Regions from separate parts of the Homo sapiens genome. Here region 2 is linked to region 1. The links come from fine-mapping of genetic effects on gene expression. A gene starts in region 1. The other region holds a variant in brackets. All regions are shown on one strand. Distances are from middle to middle.

Region 1 (8,323 bases):
TTTAGATAAACGAGCTTTTCTCTACCACATGAATTGATATATACCTATACCTGCCTGTGAGCACAAAGAACCCGGTGGACCTGAATTCAAATCTTTACTGAAAAACTTTCAAACGAAGGAATCTGCATTCTGCATCCAGCATCATCAGGACCATTTTCAAGACAAGCGGTCAGAGGCCAAAGCCAGTTTACCTAGGGTCTCCCCAGGCACAGCTCAGAAAGCCAGGAAAGGAGCCTAGCTTCATGCCAGGGAGCCTGACCTTAGTAGCAGCTGCCTGCCCTTCTCAACCCCACCCCAAGCAGGGGCCTGGCAGAGAAGAAGGAAGCCAGGGCTGAGTGCCATCCCCATGATGGAAGCTACTTGCGTGCCTTCATGAACTGACCGAAAGCACAGGACCCTTCGTGTTCAGGCAGCTCCCCCTCCCCGTGGGGATGAGCAAACCCTTTGCAGAATGTCCTGAGAGAACCTTTGCAGTGTGTTCCCAGCACTCTGGAGCCAGCAGAGCTCCTCCTGCGTGGGCCCCAGGCCTCTCATCGGCTAGCTCTGGCTAACACGCACATCCCGTAAAACCTCTCTGCTCTGCAATTTACCAAACCACAGACTCAGAATTCACCATCAGCAGAGGAAAGGCTGGAAGGAGGCTTGCTCCTCCAGTGTAGAGGGTTTCCAGAACACAGGCAATGGGTGCAGCACGTCCTGCCAGCTGACCACACCAGAGGGCCTTACTCACAACACTTGAGCTTTTGGTGTGTGGTATTCACCGTGCAAGGGCCAGGAGAGGAAGAGGCTGCAGCCTCCCCAAACCCGCTCCTCCTGCCCCTGTCTGTCCCACCAGGCCCTTTCTATTGCTTTCTTTCCCCCTTTCAATTATTGGATATGCTTATGTTATGTATTAATATATACAATGCCCCAAATGGGTAGAAACTTTTTGACCACCAGTTATTTGTCCTCTTAGCCAAACCCAACTGGACTTAGGGTACATGCAATGAAAAAAACCCAGCTGTGAGCAGCTGTGTTGCAAGTTACTTTACCCAATCTGGCTCTCCATTTCCTCATCTGTAAAATGAAGGAGTTGAGCCAGATGAGTCTTCGGGTCTCTGCCCGTTCCACAATTCCACAACATGTAACACTTTCTCCTCTCAGTGTTTTCCAGAACTCTAGTTCAGAACTCTGCATGGCCCCATCTGTTCAGTGACATCACTCCCTGCCCCCCCAAACATAATGTCATCGATTCTTACTCGGGAAGCGGAGATGTCCCGGGAAACACTTTGTCTGTAAAAAGGAAGGAAATGATCATTTCGAGGGAACTGGACAGGACTTCTTTTGTGTTTTTCACATAGAACAAGTTATTATCAATCTTAAAACCCAAAATCTTTCTTCCTTTTTGCCAGACCATTAATAGCTGCTTTTCAAAAATACTTTCTTAGTCAGAATCTCACCAATAATAAGCTACCATTTAATAAGAGCTTACTGCGTGCCAGGAACTGGGCTAAGTGCTTTACATAGATGATCTCATTTAATTCTCCCAACAAGTACATACTATTATTATCCTTACTTGAAATTGAGTAAACTGAGGCTGGGGGAGGTTTAAATAACTTGCCAAGGTGGCACAGCTAGTTACTGGCTGCATGCCAGGCTTTGAGCAAGACCGTCTAACTTCAGAACCCCAGCACGCAATCTTGCCTTTCAATCCTGTCTGCAGTGGGCCCCGGTTCTAGTTTGTTACCAGTGTGTCCTGCATCTGCAACCTTGGGCACCATCGGTGGGAGCTGAAATGTGATGTTTCATTTAAAATCCAGAGTTGGAAACGCACCTGCCTGGGTCTCAGAGCAGAGTGCCATCTGTTGAATGCAGTGCCAAGCTCAGCTGAGGACTACAAATGAGAACCCTTAAAACTTAGCCTGCAACATTTGAGAAAAATAAACCCTGGGATATACAAAGGGACATCTGTCCACAGAGCAGGTTGACCACCTGGTGACCCAAGCCCTCCAAAAAGAGCTTTCTTGTAACAGCAGCAGAAAATGCTTGCTGGACCAGATGACACAAAAGAAACAACTCTCTAAGGGTGTCAGGGACTGGACCCGACAGGCACCCACCTCCCTGCCTAGTCAACCTGCCTCCACATTTACCTCCTCCCCATATGAGCCCAGCCGCATTTGCTCAGCTGTAAAGAAACTCAAAGTTCAGAGCTACACTGGTGACAAAGGCAAAAAGAGTAGCCCGAGGCTGACATTGCCACAAACCCCAGTCCCTTTGCAACAGTGGAAGAAAAGGCACTTCAGAGATCAATGTACAATCCAGGGCAGCAACCAGCGCCTGTTTTAACTGTTAAGATTAATGCTTTGAGCACTGGAACTGCTCCTCTAAATACCCAATTTGCAAATAACATGCAGTCCTCTGTGCTTGGGTCTCTTCTATCTCAAGTACAGGAGCACAGACGCTCAGAGGGGTCAAGGACACCGTGTTTACTTCCTAAGGTGTGAGGGATGGGAAGACAGGACCGGCTGAGATGAAAGGGGAACTGTCACATAGGCTCTGGAGCTGCCCCAGTCAACCTTAACCCCTTCTCATTAAAGTTTGGGGGAGGAAGGGGGAGGGGCGGTTCCTCGGAGACCACAGCAAACATTCGCCTCCTCGTGTCTGGAGATGGAGCATCACTTAAGAGGAAATGAACCCGGTTAAGGGTCACGTCCAGAGGAGGGATAAAAGGAAAAGCCACAATTCTCCTCACACCGACGGACACAATGGCTTTATGAGGGAAATCAAAGCTTAGCGCGGAGGGTGGAGGTTGGGCAAGGGGGCGGCGGCTTCCTTCTGCCCCCAGCCCCAGGCCTAGGAAGGCAGAGACAGAGCTGGCGTGGGAGGCAGGGCGCGAGGCTTCCTTCTCCAGGGCGAGCTCTGAAAGCATCTCGGGCTGTGTGAGCGTGAGCGCCCAGGGCCCCTGGGGAGGGCCGAGGAGATGCGCTTTCCCGACGGGGCTGCTCTGTGAGGGGTTGACGAAAGCTCCCCCCACCATCCATCAAAGGCGGACAGATGACTTCACCGTTGTAACAGACAAGGGCAGCCACTTGCCAATTCCAATGCCAAAAAAAGAAACCGGGGGGGCGGGGGTGCGAAGGAGGAAGGACAGAAGAGGCTTCCCTGGAGATCACAGCCCTGCGAAGAAACTCCACGGCTGCTGGCTGCCCAGTGGGCGCTTAGCTTCGCGACCTCACAGCTGGGAGGGGCAAGGGGCCATCCGGGGCCCTCCCGGGACCTCGGGCCACCCCCAGCAGGGTCGGCGGGGGCTGTACTCACGTAGTGCTTGGAGGGGTTCCTCCGCTTCTCCACGTCCACCACGGTGGCATCCTGCACGCAGTAGGCGAGCATCTTCCCCCACAAAGCGAGTGGCGCCCCCGGCGGCGTCACCTTCTCATCCCGGCCGGGCTCCGGCTCCTTCTCCAGCTGCCGGGGTCCCGGGGCCGCCCGCCACCCCGGCCCGGCGCGCCGAACGCTGCCCGGACTCCCGGCGCCCACAGGTCCGGCCCAGGGACGGGGGAGGGTCCCGGAGGGCGCGCGGGCTCCGTGCGCCCCGGGGGACTCCCCGCCGGCCTGCCGCGCGCCCCTTCACTCCCGCGCGGCCGCCGCGCTGCGCTCGCCCGCTCGCTCTCTCCGCCGCCCGGTGGGTCCGGCGGGAACTGGCGGAGCAGAGGAGGGGCGGGGGTGTGTCCCGTCGGCGAGGGGACGGGGCGGGGGCCCCGGAGCCTGCTGTCAGCGTCCTGGGGAGGGGCCGGCGGCTCCCCTTCGCCGCTCTCCGGCTCGGGCTCCGGGGGGATCGGCGCTGGCGGAGGCTGTGGGCGCAGGAGGCGGAGGCAGGGCCTGGCAGGCAGGGAAGGGAAGGGAGGGAGGGGAGAGAGGGGAAGCGCGCGGGGAGGGGCTCCGGGCCGGGGGAGGGGCTCGGGGCGACGGGGAGGGGGCTGCAGCCCGGCCCCAGTGGCAGGGGCGGGCCGACGAGCCCCCACCCGAGCCCAGCGCGCAGCCAGCGGCCTGGCGCAGCACCGGGCTAGTTCGCTAGGCACAAAAACTCAGGGTGGCTTCGGGGGGAGAGGGAGCGGGGAAAGTGAGCCCCGCGCGCCCCCATCCTGGCTTTCCGCCTCGGAGCGGATTTGTGCCTTTTTGTCCCCACTTTTATGTCCCCCTACAACTTCCACCCCCAGATCTCTTTAATGAGAAGTAGTTTATTACCCGGCTGTTACTGCCCAGGCCCCCGAGGAGGAGATGGGAATGGGGAAAAGGCCAGCTTTAAATCCTTCAAGCCAGAGCCTCTTTGGACGAACCACCTGACCCTCTGCAGGTCATAAAGGGTGAATTCTCCCCGGAAAAGTGATCGATTCGTTGCCTGAGTCGTCCATCGATCTGGGCTTGTGTAACTACCCTGTGCATCATTTACCAATGACAACGTTACAGACTCTGCATAACACCACTGCCTTAAGCCCAGGGCTCCCCTGGGGACCCTCCCCAAGCTGGCGACAGGGAAAGGAGCATACAATGGTGGGAAAACCCACCCGGTTGGAGGCCAGCTCACCGTGAGCCCCAGGCTCTGGCATTCTCACCCCTCCCTCTAGTCTGGAAAACCCACTTTCCAAGCCACTTGTCCGTGGTCCCTGGACTTGGAGCACAGTTACTACTTAATTCAATGTAGCTTCCCCCCTTCTAGTTCAACATTTTTTTCCCATTCTGCTTTCAAACATTTAAAGGGTAGTGTTTTCACAACTACTCCAGTTGTTACACAATCACAATAAAGCTTTGTGACTGTGGACCAATGTGAAACATCTGAAAAGAGGACAAATAATTTTGTGACCTAATTGCATTAATACTTTCTTCTGCGCGTTCTCTAGACTGTCAGAACCCAGGCACAGATCTAAGGCTTTATTTATTCACATATTTGCTCCATACAGAGTAACCCACTATTCCTCCAACCTTCCTGGGGAAGGGCGCTAGGACACCAAACGATGGCACGGGACAAAGAAAAAAAAAGATGGATGGGCCTAGGGGGCTCAGACTGTGAGAGATCTTGGCACCAGGCCAGAGCTTCTTGGTCAGAGAAGATGACAGAAAACCTTTGTGAATGTTGGAGCAGGAGTCCTGGGGGAAGGTGCACCTGGTAATGTTGCTCAGCTGATGGGAAAATGGGAGGACAGGGCACTACCTCCATGAGCAAGGATTATTCCCTGAAGGGATGAGAGGTAGACCTGGAACGGGCCCTCCATATTGAGCTCCCGAACTTGGGAGGGTGCTGGCCAGCTCCAGGTCCTCTCTGATGATGGATCAAGACAGCCTGTGAGTTTGTGAGGAAGAGATTCATCATGGCTCTCGGATAACTCGTCTTCTGTGGATGGCAAAGTCTTCTGGAAGTGCTAATAAAACCTGAGAAGCCACCAGCGAGGGGAGCTGGTGTTTAGCTGTTGTGGGGGGAAGAAGAGGAGGGGGTTTAGTTTGATTTGGGTCCCCTTGTGAATCAAAGCAGTCAGCTCATCTAAAACAGCACTAGTGGTTTCCTTATTACCCTTCTTTCGGACCCAGATCCACAATGAACACACCAAGCACAATAAATTTGTAGGAGAGAGGGCCCAGTTCTTCCCCACTTCCTAGCGGCCTACAAAGTGGTAGCCTTTCTCCTGCCTAAAAGACTCCCTGCAACTTGACATTTTATAAATTCAGGCCTTTAAGCCTGACTTGAGCATACTCCCAACTTCCCCCTTTGTTCCGTAATTACCTTTATTGGAGGGAGCAACTGAGTGCTCCCCACTCAACCCCATGGTGCCAAGATCTGGGCAGAAGTTATTTCTACCTGTGGGAGAAAAATGTCTTTTCTGTACTGGGGCCGTATGTCCAAGGGGATTTAAGTATGAAATGGTGCAGGCTATCTCTTCTCTGGGTACATTTCAACCTCATGCAGATTTATTTCCCACAGTGCCTTGGGAATTCCTTTCTGTTCAATACACATTTATTGAATGCCTCACATGTGCCTGGCAATCCCCCAAAAATGACAGAGACTGGGGGAAGTTTCCTTGGAAACAAGGACTGTGCATCATTCATTAAATACCCCAACTATGCGTGGCACACAGTAGGTATATAGGATGGCCTGTGTTGAAAACATCTGCTCAAAGAGCTAGTGCTAGAAAGGATTAGAGAAACCCCTATTTTGCCACCTCCGCCCATGAACTGGAGATGACTCCAACCTAAGGACATTGTGTGAGTTAAAAATGACAAAATATAATTGCAAATTTTTTTTTAAGTTTAGGATAAGTAAGGGAAAGAGAAGCCAACATAAAGATGCAAACTGATACCTGAAAATCTGATTTTCGAAAACAGGTAATTGTAGAATGCTTAGAATCAAAGAACTTTCCAACTAGAAGGGACAAGAGAGGTTATTTATTTCTCTTATTTTACAGAGGAAGAAACCAAGGCCAAGAAAAACTAAGCAAGTTGCTTGATGCCACATAGCCAGTTAGTCCAAAGCCCGCTGTCTTTCCCCTCCACATTTATGTGCCTATACTAGGGCAAGAAGAGCTTGTTTAAAGGGCACACTTAGCACACCTGCAGGTCTAGAATGTTGCATTCACTCAAACCCTGGAGTCCCTGGTTCCAGTTCTCCATTCACACAAGCATATGAACTCGTGATGCCTGGACTTCCCAATAAAGAGGACTGTACAATCCTCTAGAGCAGAGGCCGTGTGTGTCTCCATGGTCCTCTGTGTACGTGCAAATTCCATCAGCTCCCCTAAAGCAGAACCCGCCCTACCTCCTCTCCCATGTAGGGTCTTTGTGACCACCCCCAAAGAAGACAACATGCAGGAAAGTACTGGAAACCACAGTGGGCTATATGAAAGCACAAGAGAACCTTCTCTTCCTCTTCAGAAATCGAATGACAATTGCTAATCATACATTTGTTTACTAATCATACATCACCCTATGACAGCTCAGCCTTCACTGTATTGAACCTTATTTATATCTTTTATTGTTATTTAACTTTCCTGTGCTTTAGGTTGTGCCTTCTAAACCAGTAAGAAGCCTTTGAAGGCCTTGAGGACCATGAACTTAGACATGGACACCACCCTTTCCCTCCCCACCCCCATCATCCAGCACCTCTGTCACCTGCCACACACACCTGCCCACCCAGCGCAGAGCTTTATACATGCCAGGCCCTCAATAAATGGTTGTCTTTTTAAATTACTGGGATCTCAGCAGATATTTGTAGATAATGCTGGGGCTAAGTAATGCCTAAGAAGAAGAAGAATTGGAGTCTCAGAGCAGGAATTACCCAACCTGGGTTCTACTCCTGGCTTAACCACAAACCAGCCTGTGACCTTGAAGTTCTTTCCCACGTCTGGGTCTCTGGTGCTCTTTCTGGCCCTTTCCATGCTGTACAGTGGTGGATAACTTACATAAACTGAGGTCTAGCAAGACTCTCCCCGAGTTGTGTAAATTTGAGTGAAATTTGGGGCCCTCTTCTGGCCAAAGTGGTTTTAGCACTTTTACCTCCTGCCACAGGGACAGGCAGGAGGGCCTGGGACGAATAACCTGCCCTTCTACAGACTGTAAGCGGTCCAGCGCTCATGCTTCTGTCTCTGCTTCTTCTCATCCTCCTCCTCCTTTTTCTTCTCCCCCACTCCCTTTCTCTCTCAAATCAGCCCTGATATATTTATTGACTTATGTTTGGGGAGTGTCTTGAGGACGGTCCCACCGGAGTGTGGAGCAGACAGCAAGGCCAACTGCCCAGGGAAGTAAATTGCTTGTCAGGCTTCTCCTCTCCTTGCTGGGGAACAGGACCAGGATATGGCCCCAGAACTGCCCTACCACCCAGCCCCACTGTTCACGAATTTTAGCCATACTAACAGGCCCCTCCTGTTGCCAAACTACCAGATGGTGGAAGCCGCCTCCGTCTGACACCCAGCACAGTAAGTTCATCAGCAAAATCTCAACATGCTTCTTTACACGGTCCCTTGAGAGTCTCACTCTCCTGTCTTAGCCTGGATTCCGGTGAGGGTCCGTGTGCAGCAGCAGGTTTTGATAGAACCACTTGAAATTCCAGCCTTAGCAAGTGGTCACGCCCTGGAATACCAGAGGGAAATCCGGGAACTTGCACAGCCAAAGAGGCCAAGGGCATAATTAGATTCACAGAGGAAAACAATATTATTCCATAACTCCAGGCTGCATCCCTAACCCTGACCAGACATCTGGCCCCCAAACTAGTGCATTGTGTTTTAAGACCTTCAGGAACGAGTGTGGGTGGTTTCATACAGTCTATCTCAACAATTGAACACACCTTGACGTGTATTCC
Region 2 (8,323 bases), 180 kb before region 1:
CCAGGGGCCCGATGGAATGAACACCTCCCTGTCTTCTCCATGCCCTTCCATCCTTCAGTATCTCTACACACTGGAGCACTCAAGCCCTCTCTCTCTTTGGGAATACTGTTCTTACCTCATTGCAGTTTTGAACTGGTTTCTAAATAACTGCTGCAGTTTAAGCCTTTCCTCTCCCATACAACTAAACTTTGTACAGGGCTAGATTTCTTAGGTTTCCTGCAGACTCCACGTTTCTTTTCCTTTCTGGTTAGGAAACCAGGAAATTCGGCCACCACTTTCAGGCCATCAAATAATTAGGGCCTAAGAGATGCTAGTCCTATTATTCAGTAGTAACAGTAATTGTCATTGTTGCCATGAACAGGGCACTTCCTTGTGGTAGGCACTACTGTATAGGCACACAGCAACTCATATCTTTACGACAGCCCAACAGGGTTATCGGTCCTTTACAAAGTAGTTTGGCCTATGTGATACTCACTTTAGAGGACCTGAAACAGGTTGTCATGCTCAGAGCAGCAGAAGCTGAGGCGTAACAGTGAAAGCCACGTGAATGTCATCTGGGAAAAACACGGATGGCCAATTCGTAATTCTTTAAAAGTCTTAAAAAACATGGCACCAGGCTGGGCGCGGTGGCTCACGCCTGTAATCCTAGTGCTTTGGGAGGCTAAGGCAGGCAGATCAGGAGGTCAGGAGTTTGAGACCAGCCTGGCCAACATGGTGAAACCCCGTCTCTACTAAAAATACAAAAATTAGCCAGGCGTGGTGGTGTATGCCTGTAATCCCAGCTACTCAGGAGGCTGAGGCAGGAAAATTGCTTGAACCTGGGAAGTGGAGCTTGCAGTGAGCTGAGATCACGCCACCGCACTCCAGCCTGGACAACAGAGCAAGGCTCTGTCTCTTAAAAACAAACAAACAAACAAACAAACAAAACAAAATAAAACAAAACAAAAAAACAAAAACAAACACCAATTAAGATGACAGAAAACAAATAGTTCAGGTATGACTTCCAATCCAAGCACACCTGGGTGGAAGTCTGGTCCAGGGGGCAGTTGTTTAGTGTGTGAGCTGCTTCTGATGTGGGCAACTCTACAAAAGCTTGTTCCAGGATAAGCAGCAGCCAGCTGGTCAGAGATACCCATGGCATGAAAAAAGAGTGCCCTTGCACTGGAGGGCGAGGGGTGAATACTGTTATTGCAGCAGCTCGGACCCCAGGCCTGCTCCTACACTCAGAGCCTCCAAGGCAGAGCTGGCTTCGTGGAGGTGTGATCTGGGCAGTGGCCTAGGGTCCCAGGTTTAGAAGGGTCCCTGCAGCTGATTTAATGCTCTTCTGTCAGGGGTTTCATCAATAATTTATGAATGAGAGAGTCTTCATTTTCATTTTGCAGTGGATCCTGCAAATTATGTAGCTAGCTATGCCCAAGACCTGAGGGTTTGGGGCCACTGAGCTAAATAAACAGAAGTACTCAAGAAGAAATCTAGTAGAGCTGAATTTCTGATGGATATCTTCTTAAAGACAGAAAGCAAATCCCAAATGGAAAGCCAGGCCATTGTTTGTCTCCAGGTCCCCTCTCTCTGCTACATCTTTGGCTTCTTGGTGGTACCCCCACAGGCTGGAAGGACTATTTAGGGTCTCAGAACCAGAGAGGAGAAGAGACTTGCCTAAGATCACACAGCAAATAAGTCGTAGGGCTGGAGCTAGAATAATTATACCAGTTTCCACTTACTTAACATTCATGCTAGGTGCTGTGCTAAACATTTATGAGCATTTTCTTGTTTAATCTTCACAACAGTCTGTAATTTACAGATGAGGAAAGTGAGGCACAGAAAAGTTAAGGCTCTGGCCTTGTGCGGTGGCTCACGCCTGTAACCTTAGCACTTTGGGAGGCTGAGGTGGGTGGATCATCTGAGGTCAGGAGTTCGAGACCAGCCTGTCCAACATGTTAAACCCCATCTCTACTAAATATAAAATTAGCCAGGCATAGTGGTGCATGCCTGTAATCTCAGCTACTTGGGCGGCTGAGGCAGGAGAATTGCTTGAATCCGGGAGGCGGAGGTTGCAGTGAGCCGAGATCGCGCCATTGCACTCCAGCCTGGGCAACAAGAGCGAAACTCCGTCTCGGGGGAAAAAAAAAAGAAAAGTTAAGGTTCTTTCCCAAGGCCCTACAGCAAGAAGTGATGGCATCAGACTTAAGCCCAGGCAGGCTGGCCAGGAATTGGGAACAAAGGGTCCTCATGGGGGATGTCATTTTCTGATCCTCCCTGGCCACTGGCCAAGGCTTTCTTTATTTCTGCTGCTTTTCGTAAATGCAGCAAGAAAGGACTTGCCTCATTCCCTGGAATCCAGAACACGTGTGGGGGCAGCCCAACCCAGGGTAGGAATGCACTATTGACCCTCTGGCCCTGGGTTATGCAGTCAAGGAGCAGTTTCCCTGCTCAGGCGGGGGATGGGGTGCAGTGGGGGCTGGGCCTGGAGACCCTCCACAGCCCCTTAGGGACTAAGTCCAAGGGTGCCTGCCTAGGCCAAGCCTGGGGCCAGAAGGGTCAGCCCAGCCTAAGTGGGTGTGGACGGAGAAGCCAAGGATGCCCTAGGAGCACTGAGGCTGCCTAGAAGGGGCTGCCCTGGCAGGGAGTAGCAGGTAGTTCTGTCACCTCCCTCCACCCTGCTGAGAAGACCGGAAGCTTCCTGGTTAAAGATAGGTGCTGGGTTAGTGAGAGGTGCCGTGGGTGGACAGAGGGGTGCTGGCCAGGGAGGCTGGCAGGTTCAGAGCCTCTCTGATCCCAGCAGCTGCTGCCCAACCCATGGCAGCCCCTTGGGTTGCGGCCTCCCCCTCAGTTCTCAGGTTCTCACCTCTCCCCACCCCAGGGCATTTGTGTGCAGAGAAGAGACAAACTCAAGTTTGTTCTGAGTTCCAGGATCCCAGCCACCTCCCTCCCTGGGGTGGCCTGCCTTGGTGGTCCTCCCTCACTTACTGGGAGATCCTCCCTCCAATTCCCCCACCCTCCAGCTCCCCCAGAAGCCCGAGCCAAAGCCAGTATTTGCGTTCACACAGAGAAGGAGCAGCAGAGAGGCTGGGCAGTGGGATGAAGTCAGCAGTCGCTGGTCTCCAGCCCCGAGTCTTGCAATCCGCCTCCTCCCTGGCTCAGTCTCCCTGAGAGCCGCGAGTGAGTGATGGAGTCAATAGCAACGGACTCAGGACAGACATTCCCCTCCCCGGACAACAAAATGTGGAATGTCTCCTTCTCTCCAGACTGGACTCTTGCTATCGGATTATCAATGAATCAACCGCCAACTATTTCGGGAGCATCAACGGCCCCTGGTTGAGACCATCTGACTCTCCACCCTCTGTCTCAAAGCATCAGACACACAACCACAGACACCGTCCCCAGCATTCCTGTCTGCTTCAGGAGTCATGTAGGTTTGGGGAGACAGGCTGGGTCCCGGAAGGTCTGAGGGAGGAGACGGCAGGGCTGAGTCCTGGAGGCCTTGAAGGTATAACTGGACCCATCTTTGGGGTAGGGCTCACGGAGCCTCAGGGACATCTGGCTGGACGCTGCCATCCACTGGTGCAAGACAGGGGTGGGGATGGGGGGTCAGGGGTAGGAGGAGAATTCATTCCTGGACTGAGGTTGAGGACACCCACTTTTCAAGGTTTTCTGTCTCCCTTATCATGCCCTGGGCAGGATCTTTGTTCACTGACTGTTCCCACTGGCTCCAAACGTCTGGTTAGGGCTATAGTCCTAGCAAGCGCATAGCGCATAGTAGGTGCTTATTAAAGATTTGTTATGAGTCTCTTCAATCAGACCTTTAGTTCCTTCAAGGCCTTATCCCTGTCAGCACCCCACAACACCTTGAATGCAGGAGGTGCCCAATTAACCCTCAGTGGCTGATGGAAAGATGAATACTCACTGCTCTCAAGCCCAAGGGTGCATGGAAAACTGAGGCCCGGCTACCCCACTGCCCCAGGACCCTCTTGATACCCACGGCTCTGCCCTCTCTAGTCCAGGCTTGGCCTCCGGAACCACATACAGGCATACAGGCCTGGCTTGTGCTGGGCACAGTGGCTCCCGTGCAGGCCTCCGAGCCTGCAGAACACCCTGAAGGGCGTTGGCTCCCAGCATCTGCTTTAATGCCCTTCAAAGAGATTTTTAGAAAAATTACCCCTAAGCAGTACAGTCTCTGGCAGGATGGACGCTACAGGAAACAGGAGCCGGAGCAGGAACGACCCGTTCATGTGTAATGTCTGGGGGGAGCAGGGCTTGGTGCAGCCTCCCATGGTGTTTGCTGGGAGCCCCTGAGCCTTTCCTTACCCCATCCCTCCCCTCCTCTGCGTGGGTCCAGACCAATCCCCTGAGCGCTGAGATGCCACGTAAACAGAGCTGTGCATGCACGCAGTGCGCACGCACACACCACTGCTTGGGAAATCCCCACATCTGGCTCTCACGTGACCCAGCTATGCCCAGAAGGCTGCAGCTGAGAGGGCCTGGAAGATGAGAGGGTCGGGAGTGTGCGGCTCTCTGGGGAGCCCCGAGTTAACCCTTCAGCACCACAGCTCGGCGGCTCTGTCTAATGCTAAGCTTCCAGAGAGGGGAGAAGCCAGGAAGGAGGCCTGGTGCTCAGTGCTCAGCCCTGGCCCTGGTTGCCTTTCCCAGCGTGGGAAGGTTGGGACACTTCTCTGGGCCTCACTGGTCTTGACCTGGGATGTGAAAGGGCTGCTCTTTCCCTGTCCTGTCAATCCTGGTCAATCATCAGCCTCTCGGGAGTTCTCACTGGAGGGAGATTCCTTCCCTGATGGAGGATATTTCATGTGCATCTCCTAGTGTCAGGAACCTGGCTGCAGGACAGTGATCCTGGAATCACAAGGAGTCAAGATTCATGGCCTCCTTTGTCTCCCAGGAAACGGCTGGGCTCTTCCTAACAATAAGGAAAAGGTGGGAGGTGGCTCCTGGGCCAACACATATTAATTAGAACATTTTAAACTTCAATAATTTTATTGAACAAGTAGCAATCTGCAATAGCTCCTCTGAAACAGAACCACACAGTAGGTGCTCCAGGGCTATGAAAGAGATGCCC[C/T]ACATGGAAGACGTGGCACATGGGGACAGTGGCTCCTACCACTGAACAGATGTCCTCTGCACAGGTACTGTCCTCTTCACCCAGCTGACCCATTTAGAAAGCTCAGTAAATTAGGCTCAGCAGCCATGCAGGTCTGTGTGCCTTGCTCAGAGACCCCTACATGGCGTGGCCCCAGCCCCGTGCAGCACTTGTGACACTGTTTTAAAACTGCTGTTTCCTTGCCCACCTCCCCCATCTGGCCAGGAGTCCTCTGAGGACAAGGACCTCATTGTCTCCATCTTGGTATCACTGAGGTTCCATCACAAGACCTGTCAGATGTGCAGTAGACAAACCTAGAAGGCAGGCACAGCCAGAGCCAGAAAAGCCAGCTTTAGTCTGGAAGGAGCCACCTCATCCCAGAAGGAAGACCTAGTACCAGTGTCCATTCAGAAACTTGCTTCCTATCCACTAGCCTTCAAGGGTACCCTCCCTGCGCCCCAGGAGACAGCTGCCTAGTGTCCACTGAGCCATGGGCTTGGAGCAGAAGGAGCGAGCCAAGTCATGGAGGAAGGGTGGGGGAGAGGGGAGTTCCCCTGACCAGAACCCTGTGGCCAAATGCAAATGAGCAACTCAGAGCCAGCAGGCTCCAGGACTGTGTATGGCAGGAGCTCACAGGCCAGAAGAACTTGTCCCACCCTGACAGATCTGAAATGAGGGATGTTAAAATCTGCATATTTGCAAGGTCCCCCTGGGGGGGCCATTGCCAACATACAAAGACAGTCTTAGTTTGGTCTGTTGTCACCAGCCTGTCATCACTGCTTAGCATAGCAAGGATCTGACCCTCCAGCTGGGAAGTTATGTACCCAGACCTGATCCTCTTCCAACACTCAAAGAGCCTAAGGTGCTCCAGGGCTGAGCTGAGGACACCCTTACTCACAGGGATCCAGAAGCAGTGACAAGGGGGAGGATGGTGAAGAGATGGCCAGCTCTGCCTTCTCTTTTATTTTATTTATTTATTTATTTTTTGAGATAGAGTCTCGCTCTGTCACCCAGGCTGGAGTGCAATGGCGCCATCTCTGCTCACTGCAACCTCTGCCTCCCCGGTTCAAGTGATTCTCCTGCCTCAGCCTCCTGAGTAACTGGGATTACAGGCGCCCACCACGACACCAAGCTAATTTTTGTATTTTTGTAGAGACAGGGTTTCACCATGTTGGCCAGGCTGGTCTCAAACTCCTGACCTCAAGTAATCCGCCCAACTCGGCCTCCCAAAGTGCTGGGATTACAGGCGTGAGCTACCACACCCGGCCTGCCTTCTTTATGTTTTATTTTGAGATAGGGTCTTGCTCTATTGCCCAGGCTGGAGTGCAGTGGTGCGATCACCATTCACTGCAGCTTTAACCTCCTGGGCTCAACAATCCTTCTTTGCCCTCCCGAGTAGCTGAAACCACAGGTGTGTGCCACCACACTGGACTAATTTTTTATTTTTGTAGAGAAGGGGTCTCACTAGGTTGCCCAGGCTGGTCTCAAGCTCCTGGGCTCAAGTGATCCTCCCACCTCAGGTTCCCAAAGTGCTGGGATTACAGGCGTGAACCACCACACCCAGCAAACTCTGTTTCTGAGCACAAGGAAGCAAAGGGACTTTCTAACATGACCCAGTTGTCTTGGTGCAAGACTTTATTCTAACAATAAATAACAAAATACATTTTCAAGCTGGCTGCTTGGGCCACACATGGCAATGATGAAATCCAGGGGGCAAGGCAGAAAGAAGAGAGTCAGGGAAAAGCATGATTTTCCTGTAAACTTCTAAGTTTTATGGAAACTCAGGAAAAAAATATTTTTTTCTTTCACACTTCGAAACAGACCAATTCTAAAAATGCCACGTGCCGACTAAGTTACACACACCACTTTTCTGTTTCTAAAAGTAACTTTAGATTAGAAAAAGGTGCTAAAACAATAAGTAATGCACATTTCCCCCATGTCTTTGTTTTTCCGCCGGCTTTGTCATCACTGGAAAGGTTGCCTCTTCTGTCACGTGTCTATAAACCAAACGCTGAAGTGAGGAACCAGTGACTTTCTGGCCGTGGGCCACGGTGGGAAACATTTCTTTGCTGGACCACAATTTGGGTATTTCCTCCCCCAGCAACAAAACCTTCTGGAAATGAAAGGCAGATGGTGTCTCTCATCAGGTCAGGGCTGGGTAGGCCCCTCAGATAGCCATTCTCCAAGACTCCAAATGCTGGGCTGTGTTTCAGGGGTAAGAGACTTGGGAGTCCTGTCCTCCATTCCTGCCCCCGTAGCCCACCCTCCCATCTCAGGAGACAACTGAATGTTCTTCAAGGAGCAGTCCCATCCAGGCATCATCCAGGCACCATTCATCTTGGGGATGCCAATCCCCCTGCCATCTTGCTGCCTGTCTACCCTGAACATGGCCATCAACCCACATGGATGACCCATCAAAGACGCAACCCTAGCTTGATTTCAGAAGCCCTGGGAAGCCTGTCAAAAATGCAGATTGGCTGGGTGCAGTGGCTCACGCCTATAATCCCAGCACTCTGGGGGGCCAAGGCAGGAGGATCTGCCTGGCCAACATGGTGTAACCCTGTCTCTACTAAAAATACAAAAATTAGCCAGGTGTTGTGGAGGGTACCTGTAGTCCCAGCTACTCAGGAGGCTGAGGCGGGAGAATCACTTGAACCCAAGAGGCAGAGGTTGCAGTGAGCCAAGATCGCACTACCACACTCCAGCCTGGGTGACAGAGTGAGACTCCATCACACACACACACGCGCCCGCGCGCGCGCGCGCACACACACAAAATGCAGATCGGCCAGATGCGGTGGCTCATATCTATAATCCAGCACTTTGGGAGGCCGAGGTGGGTGGACTGCTTGAGGAGCTTGGGAGTTTGAGACCAGCCTGGGCAATATGGTGAAACCCTGTCTCTTAAGAAAATGAAAAAATGCAGATACCTGGGCGTCACTCCAGACACGCTGATTCAGTAGGTCTGGGCAGGCCCTGGGAATCTGTATTTCAATGAGCAGACTCAAGATTCTGCAGTTCACTTTTGCCCATGCAGTTCCCTTTTGGACCAACTTCCTATTTTCCTAGCAGGAGAAACTGGGTGATAGGAGTGAGGGGGCAGAGGCAGCTGTGCAAGCAGGGCTGAGGGAATTGAGGCTTCCAACTAGCTGCCTCCTTCTGGGGATTCCAGGATCCGGGGAGCGCTTGCCACGCCCCTGCCCCCTCCCCGCTCCGCCTTGCTCTGTGTGTCCAGGCCAA

The links. PIP is the estimated chance that this variant, and not a neighbour inherited with it, causes the effect.
Region 2: its variant is fine-mapped to the expression of SH3PXD2A in whole blood (TOPMed, PIP above 0.99).

Annotation. Positions count from the first base shown.
Region 1 is chr10:103,851,898-103,860,220 of GRCh38, forward strand. It overlaps SH3PXD2A (SH3 and PX domains 2A), which reads right to left and starts at 3,679. Exons shown (of 15, transcript NM_001394015.1): 1 at 3,298-3,679. The coding sequence starts at 3,369.
Region 2 is chr10:103,673,925-103,682,247 of GRCh38, forward strand. All of the region lies in intron 6 of SH3PXD2A (SH3 and PX domains 2A), which reads right to left. Among named protein-coding and RNA genes, the nearest start is that of SH3PXD2A-AS1, 69 kb to the right of the region's middle. RefSeq lists enhancers at 4,454-4,513, 4,524-4,693, 8,057-8,323. The variant C/T (reference allele first, on the strand shown) is at 5,069.